2 linked regions of the Homo sapiens genome follow. The protein of the gene in region 1 purifies or fractionates together with the protein of each later gene. This does not show direct contact. Each region holds a gene or a part of one and is shown in the gene's direction. Other genes may lie near its edges. The genes, in order: ZNF543 and JPH1.

Evidence for each region.
Region 2: the proteins of ZNF543 (region 1) and JPH1 purify together in Homo sapiens (affinity purification with mass spectrometry; one large-scale study listed by BioGRID and IntAct). This does not show direct contact.

The regions. Positions count from the first base shown.
Region 1 is NC_000019.10:57,318,908-57,323,521, forward strand, and holds the start of ZNF543 (zinc finger protein 543), read left to right. Parts: upstream 1-1,564; 5' UTR 1,565-1,946; coding exon 1,947-1,964; intron 1,965-4,614. UniProt on the Homo sapiens protein: May be involved in transcriptional regulation.
Region 2 is NC_000008.11:74,258,968-74,262,788, reverse strand, and holds part of JPH1 (junctophilin-1), read left to right. Parts: intron 1-3,285; coding exon 3,286-3,404; intron 3,405-3,821. UniProt on the Homo sapiens protein: Junctophilins contribute to the formation of junctional membrane complexes (JMCs) which link the plasma membrane with the endoplasmic or sarcoplasmic reticulum in excitable cells.

The DNA.
Region 1 (4,614 bases):
GGGGTGGCATGGCTGTGGTGTAGGTGAGTGAAGCACCATGGTGTGAGGGGTCCCCGGCAATGCCTCCCACCTTTTTGAATCTCCAGTGTCTATTATTCCACTATTTCCATATGTATACATCATTTAGCTACCACTTATAAGTGATAACATGCAGTATTTGACTTTGTTTCTGAATTATTTCACTTAAGAGAATGGCCCCCCAGTTCCAGCCATATTGCTGCAAAAGCCATGATTTTTTTTAATGACTGAGTAGTATTCCATGGAGTGTATATATATATACACATATATACATATACATACATATATATACATATATATACATATACATACATATATACATATATACATATACATACATATATATACATATATATACATATACATACATATATATACATATATATACATATACATACATATATATACATATACATACATATATATACATATATATACATATACATACATATATACACATATATATACATATACATACATATATACATATATATACATATACATACATATATACATATATATACATATACATACATATATACATATACATACATATATATACATATATACATATACATACATATATATACATATATATATCGCATTTTCTTTATCCAATCATCTGTCGATGGACACTTAGGTTGATTCTATGACTTTGCTACTGTGAATAGTGCTACAGTAAGCATGTAAGTACAGGCATCTTTTTGATATAGTGGTTTATTTTCCTTTAAGTAAATACCCAATAGTGGAATTGCCAGATCAAATGGCAGTTCTATTTTCAGTTCTTTGATAAATCTCCATACTGTTTTCCATAGAGGTTGTACTAATTTACATTCCCACCAATAGCATATAAGCGTTCCCTTTTCCTTGCATCCATACCAACATCTGTTGGTTTTTTACTTTTTAATAATAGCCACTCTGACCAGTATAAGATGGCATCTCAGTGTGTTTATGTGTGTGTGTTTTCTCTCATCATATCTCATTATAACCTCAAATTCCTGGGCTCAAGCAATCCTCTTGCTTCAGCCTCCCAGTGTCTAGGACTACAGGTGTACACCATCATGCCTTGCTCTTTTTTTTTTTTTTGGTAGATATAACATCTTACTATATTGCCCAGGGTGGTCTCAAACTCCTGACCTCAGCAATTATTTTGTGTTGGCATCCCAAAGCACTGAGATTACATATATGAGCTACCTCCCTAAAATAAGGGAAGTGAGCCAGAAGCTCTGGGCCCAGCCCATGATCTCAATCGGGGCGAATATCCCCGCCTCCTGACCTCAATTTTCCTAAGCTAGAAAGGACCTTTCGACCCTCCGACTTGTGCCCATAGTAAAGCGGCGGCCCTAAGACGACGCGGGGGTCCTTGTGCGCACTTAAATGGAGTCGGCTGCGCTTGGTGAGTTCCCACACCCGGTAGATGTGAGGGAAAAACTGCCTTACTCAGAAGGCACCACCCCTTGCGTCGGCCGCGGACTCTAGGCCAATGACGGGCCAGGACACGGGCGATTTCTGCGGGCCAGGGCGGCGGAGGTGGGACTTCCGCTTCGTCGCGTGACGTCATCTCCGTGAGCAGGATTGGCCCTGGAACAGTGTGGGGCCTGGACCGCTGGGTAGGCGCGTCCAGCGGCCTGAGCAGGGGAGGGTAATGAGGCTGTTACGCGCCTTCTCCGCATCTTGGCGGGAGCCTGACGCCCCGCTTCTTCCCTAACGGGGTGTTCCACCGGCGCCTGCCGAGGCCTAGGCCTCCGCAGCCGCCCTCCGTCTCCTCAGCCCCGACGCTGCGCCCGCTTTGTGCGCATTTTTCTCTGGGGAAACTGAGGCTCCGAGTGCGAAAGTCAGCCGAGGTCGCCCCGCCCAGGACAGAGAAGGGCTGGGGGTCGGCTGAGCCGCGGCATTCCCGGGCCCCGCTAGGGCTGCAGGGTCTCAGGATGGCAGCCTCGGCGCAGGTGAGTGGACGAGGTTTTGGCCTTGCTGCTGCTCTGCTACTTCTGGAGGCCTCGTGGGCAGGCAGAAGCCAAGACAGCCACAGGATGTTTCTTTGTCGCCGTCGTTTATTTAAGAGAAGTGGCCGTAGCTTGTCATTTCCTTTATCCGCAGTCCTGCAATAGTGTTGGCCTCCGACAGGTGCTCAGTCCTTGGTAGAAGGATGAATGATGCTTCCTTCATGGATCTCATCACACTTCCCTTAAATCCAACCTCCTCTGTTGCCTGCCAGCCCCTACCCCATCCACCTGGCCAACCACCCCTGACCTTGTCTCTCCATTTTTCCCTTGTCCTTTGCTCTTCAGAGCCACCAACCTGACCGTGCAGTCTTCTTCCTTTTTCCAGGCTTTCTCTTTGCACTTCCCTTTGCCTTGAACACTGCCCCTATAACTTCGCAGGGCCTCCCTCTCATATCTTTCTGGCCTCTGTCCAGATGTCACCTATTTGGAGGTGGCTTTCTTGGCAATTCCGGCTAAAGTGGCGCCTTACGCACTTGCCCATTTTTGGCAATGTGTGGCATTTTTGTATAGAGAATCTGACGATATTAAAGAAGCTTGCCGTTTGAGTTGGTCTAGGATGTTATGTGAACAAAGAGAAACGAAATAATTGCAAAGAGTGACAGCTGATCATAAAGAGTCCTTGCTGTGGGCTGATTGGCAGGCATTATTTAACCCTCAGCTCCTTTAATCCTGAACTCCTTAGAATTAGGTTCTCTTGTCCTCACTGTTTTACACAAGAGCAGCTGGAGGCTCACATAGGTTCAATTACCTGCCTTACATCACTGTAGCTCTTAAGTATCAGAAACTAACAACTGGTGTGTCTACCATCACAGCCTGTGTTTTTACCCTCTTCTTTGCCCGCAATGGTTAGGGAGGCCTGGGGGTGACACCTAAAGTAAACTTTGCAAGTTGAGCAGGCTTCCTTCTAGCAGGTGGTCTTGGACATGAGGAGTCATGGCATTTCATGCTGGTGGAACTGTGTGGACTAAAAAAAAATGGTTTATTGGTTGTTTAAGGAGTCCGCAGGGGACCCGTGTGGCTTCCACAGTGGTTTCCTGAGTGGTTTTCTCCTATACCAGCTGACACATGTCTTGGGACACAAGATTTTGTGGTCTTTTGCTAGATGTGCCTTCCTCCTTAGCCAGGACAGACATAGCCAGTCAGGGGCCCATGTTCTCATGGCTACAACCTGCTGTGTCCTCTGTGACTCTTGTTCCTTGCTCCTGAAGTATCCTGACCTCAGGGATACTTGTTGGTAGGACTCAAACAGGAAAAGGTAGTGATAGCTCGTTGTGGATTCTTCCTATGAGAATGGGCATCTGTGAGGCCCAGAAGTGTCCGAGGCAGCAGATGCAGGTCCAGGCCCTGCCACTTTTGAGGCAGGTGCCACCACCTCAGGTGACTCTTCTGTGAGGTAGGTGATTATGACTATGCTGCTCTGCCCAGGTCCATGAAAATATTTCAAGTGGCTAACCCCAGCACAGTGGCATGTGTCTGTATATCCAGCTTGGGAGGCTAAGGCAGGAGGATCATGAGTTCAAGCCCAACCTGGGCAAAATATTGAGACCCTGTCTCAAAAAAAAAAAAAAAAATCCTGAAAATATTTTCAGGGTGGCTCAAATGGATGTATTTCAATGTTTCCCATCCTCATTAACTGTGCATTAACTTTGCTAATGAAGGAGTGTCGGGTTGCATGATTAGAACATAGACCATAGGGCCCTGGGTTCAAATTCTGTCTCTCCTGATAAGAGATGTGACTTTGGGTAGACTAGTGGAGGTCCTGGACCTCAAGTCTCTGAGTGTGACATGGAGATGATGATGGTGAACTCAGGAGCTGTGGCCCTTTGCCCCAGTGTTTCCTTTACAGCTTTTCTTCAGATCTTTTGACTATTCTTGGTGAAGTGGAAAACCCTGTTGTGTTGACCTGGACATCAGGGCTCAGATAAATGAAATGAGATTTCCAAGGTCACATAGCAGGCTTGTGTTGATTTCAGGAATTTGGTTTTAAACCTCAGGAGTCTGACTCCTGAGCTGGGGACTTTTAGTCACTTTACCATGGCATGTAAAGCCATTAGCATGAGGCAGGCTCACAGGGAGGATCGGTAAGACTCAGGTGCTGTTCTTGTTGTTGTTGCTGGTGTTGTTTTTGTTATTATTCTTTCCCATTCCTCTGATGTCTCAGAGCACTTACTGTCTTGCCTCTCAGTCCCCTTAGGATTGTCCTAACCTTATTTCTGTGTGAAGTGGCTTTCTGCATAGGAGGCTTCTCTCTCTTCACTGCTGTAATTTTTTTTTTTTTTTTTGAGACGAGTCTCGCTCTGTCACCCAGGCTGGAGTACAGTGGCACGATCTCGGCTCACTGCAAGCTCCGCCTCCCGGGTTCACGCCATTCTCCTGCCTCAGCCTCCCGAGTAGCTGGGAATACAGGCGCCCGCCACCGCGCCCGGCTAATTTTTTTGTATTTTTAGCAGAGACGGGGTTTCACCATGTTAGCCAGGATGGTCTCGATCTCCTGACCTCGTGATCTGCCCTTCATGGCCCCCCAAAGTGCTGGGATTACAGGCGTGAGCCACCGCGCCTGACCGACACTGCTGTAATTTATCCAAGGCAATGT
Region 2 (3,821 bases), on another chromosome or scaffold:
GCTCCCCAGGTCTCCCCAGCCAGCATGGCTGTGGTGTCTTCACCCATAAGGTGCAACTCTTCACAAGTTAAAAATTCGGTTTATTTGTTAAAAATATATAGCCCTAAAAGAAAGTCAACAGCTGATGCTTAATTTAAAGAAGTCGCTTTTCAGTTACTTTTTACTGCATTTGATGGGAGAAAGTATTTGTGATAATGGTATTTGGAGATTCTTGAGGGTCTGAAGATTTGTAAAATGTCACAGTCTTTTGATAAATGAAATGCTTTTGGGGCACGTATTCCCCTTTGGTGTATGCATTTTTTGCCTGTGACCAGCAATAGCATCAGGGCATCCAGTTTGAGTGGTTTCAGCTTATCTCTCCAGACTGCCTAACCTGAATCCCACCCCCCAACGCAAGAACAATCGCAATTGACTGATTACAGGGGTCGTGTGTCACTCTGGAACTGAGCCTGGGATGTGATCACATGAATTCACTAACATGAGCCAGAGACAAGTCCAGATTATTCCTGGGCAAAATCTAGACATGCCAGTGGCCTTAGCTGTACAGGCTGGTGTTAACAGCAAACTCAGAGTGGGTTTCTGTTCTTCCTTCTTGTCATCGGTTCCAAAAGCTCTTGAGCAGACTTCAGGATTCAGGTTTGAATGTGGTCTTGACTCATCTGGCCAGCTATACAGTAGCACTGAGCCACAGAGCTGGGCTGGATAGAAAGGTCCTCCTTTGCTGTGTGGTCTTATAGGAAACAGCAAGTAAAAAAGTAAAGGGTTAAGTACTAGCAGGCTTCACTGATGCTGTGCTTCCAAAATATATTTGCAGAAAGGTTAAGCTGTATTTGTCTATTCTCTAGTTTAGCATATTATAAAAAGTGGTAGATATACTACTGCTGTTTTATTTGACTGTATGGTGGTGTGTCGTGATTGAATCCGAATAAGTTACTTGTACTTGAGTTTTGTAAATTTATCATTAAAGGGCTAATAGATAGTATTATAAAGCAGCATAGCTATACTCTTATGGCTTCATTAATTATGACACCTAGACATAATTAGGCTCTGGCTAAGAATAGCGGACAAAATGGAAAATCATTTGGGGGAAAAAAGTTTAGATTCTGAGAAACTGAAAGAACATTAGCGGAGGGCATCTGTTGATTATCAGGCACAACACACAGGACTAAGGCATTACCCATCGTACCTCAGCAATGGCACCCATGAGGGGTTATTCCAACAGCCAGTTGTTTAAGAATATGTCCCTCCCCTCTTGATGTTATTTCCATTTCATATTTCTTGATACCCCATACACAAATAATCTAAAGCATCCTCCATGGTTTAGAAATAGCAGTTTTGATGATTCGAAGTTGATCCACTCATTTTTAATGACTTTATTTTTTAGAGCAGTTTTAAGTTATCAGAAAAATTGAACAGGAACTGCAAAGTTCCCATACACCTCCTCTCCTCATGCACACACACAATATCCCCTATTATTAACATCTTGCATTTTGAGGTGCGTTTGGTGTAATTGATGAACCGGTATTAATATATTAGTATTAAAGTCCATAGTTTACATCAGGCTTCATTCACTGTTTGTGTTGTACAGTCTATAGATTTTGACAAATATGTAATGTCCCCCACTACAGTATCATGCAGAATAATTAAACTCCCCCAGATATGCCCTCCTTTCCACCAATTCATTCTTCCCTACTACACCCCGAACTCTTAGCAACTCTGAATCTTTTTACTGTCTCTATGGTTTTGTCATTCCATTCAGTTTTAAGAACTACCCAGCTTTTCCTAAGGAAGCATCATTCATTCCTTTATTCATAAAGTGGTCCCTCAATAAATAGTATGTGCCAATGTAGCGTTCTGCACTTTGGGATTATGACAGAGGACCAAAAATTAAAAATTCCAATCTTCACAAAGCTTACATTCTAATACATCAAGCCTTCAGGCTTGCTTAGATCCTAAATAGAAGTGAAAGGAGTCCCGTGAGAGCACAGGACAAGAGGAGGTTATTGAAGAGAGTAATGTGAAAAGGGGGCCTCCTACCAGTAGACCCCCTTGTCTCAGGCCAGGCCCGGTGCCTCCGTGTTTTGGTCCCAGGAGCTCCGCCTGCCAGCCTCCTCCAGCTGCTGCCCGTGTGTTCTCCCTGAAGAGCATCCAAAGCCCATGCCTTTTCCCAACTCCTCCTCTCTCCTGCTGTCTCCAACATAAGTGTAAGCACCTTTTTCAGACTTCCATTAAGTTTTCACTGCTAGTTATTTATAGCCCTGCCTAGTGCTAATAAAATATAATAGAAAATTTACAAAGTCATAAGAAATAGGTACCCATAAACATCTAAAGACTAACGGGACAAGGCCTTTCCCTTTGCAGAGCAGATAAACCAGAGTTTTTTTCTTCCCTCCAACCCTCTCTGGGGCCAGTAGACATCATTCCCTGGTGCAGCCATAAGAAGCCCTATTCTTTTTCCTGCCACTTTCCGCATAACCCTAGTCCTCCAGAAAGATGAGAGGTTTCCATGAGTGAGGACAGGCCAGGGAGGCGATGGAAGACTGAAAGATCCATTTCATCCTTGCCAGTTCTGCCTCGCTGTCTCCTTTTTGGTTCATACAAGAAACATGCCTAAAAGTCAGCTAAATGGGCTCCTCAGGAACCCTTCTGAGCATGTTCTTAGAGCGGGCCTTGTGGTTTGCTCCTGCTGGTGAGCACCAATAGTGCACATCTCCCCACTGCACATCCAACGGCATTATGCTGGTAGCCTGAAATTGGCCACGGTGAGAACATTTACACATGGATATGAATAAACACTACCAATCCCCATTTCACTAATTTTTTTCTTCAAAGAGCTACTTCACCAGCATGCCAGTGGGCAGATCTTTCTTAGTCAAATTCTTACATTGATTGTACCGTAGAAATGAATTTGATAAACACTATTAATTTATATGTTCTAATTCTACTTTCCATAATTTTAGGTGGGGGGGAGGAATGCCAACCAAAGTCAACAGGAGATTTGATCCAGTAAGTTTTGAAAACCACACTTAGCATCAAGCTACACAGACCTTGCTCTTACTTTTCATTTCCCTTGAGAGAAGGGCTAAGGCAATTCATGGGTAGTTTAGTTTCATCTATGTCATCTTCATTGAAATTTCACGGCAATAGGACTCTAAAATTTTTGCTCTTGTGGGTGTCGGGCCATAATCATAATTAACATTTCTTTTCCCAGATTACAATTTGCTTGTCCCTGTGTAAGTAACAAGGGGTCACCTATGCTGACTCGTCCTTTTGTGCCCCGTGTAGGACTGCACATGCCAGAGCGAAGGCCGATGCCGCCGACCAGGCCGCGCTGGCCGCTCGCCAGGAGTGCGACATCGCGAGAGCTGTGGCCAGGGAGCTGTCACCTGATTTCTACCAACCAGGTAAAACAGTGCTCCTTTGATGGGTGAGGCAGGAGCACTGGCTTTGGCTTGCTTTTATTTCCTTTTCCTTTCAACATAAAGATGTGTGCTTCCTGAATCCCAGCAGTACTATTATACAAAACAAGCAAGGGCGCCTGCGGTTGAGGATCCTTCATCTGAAGTGCTTGGGACCAGAAGTGTTTCAGATTTCAGATTTGTTGATATTTTTCTGTATTTGCATGTACACAGTGAGATCTCTTGAGCTGGGAACCCAAGTTGAAACACGAAATTCATTTATGTTTCATAGATACCTTATACACATAGCCTGGAGGTAATTTTATAGTATATTTTTAATAATTTTGCACATGGAACAAAGTTTTGACTGCATTTTGACTGTGACCATCGGTCATGTGGAATTTTCCACTTGTAGCATCGTGT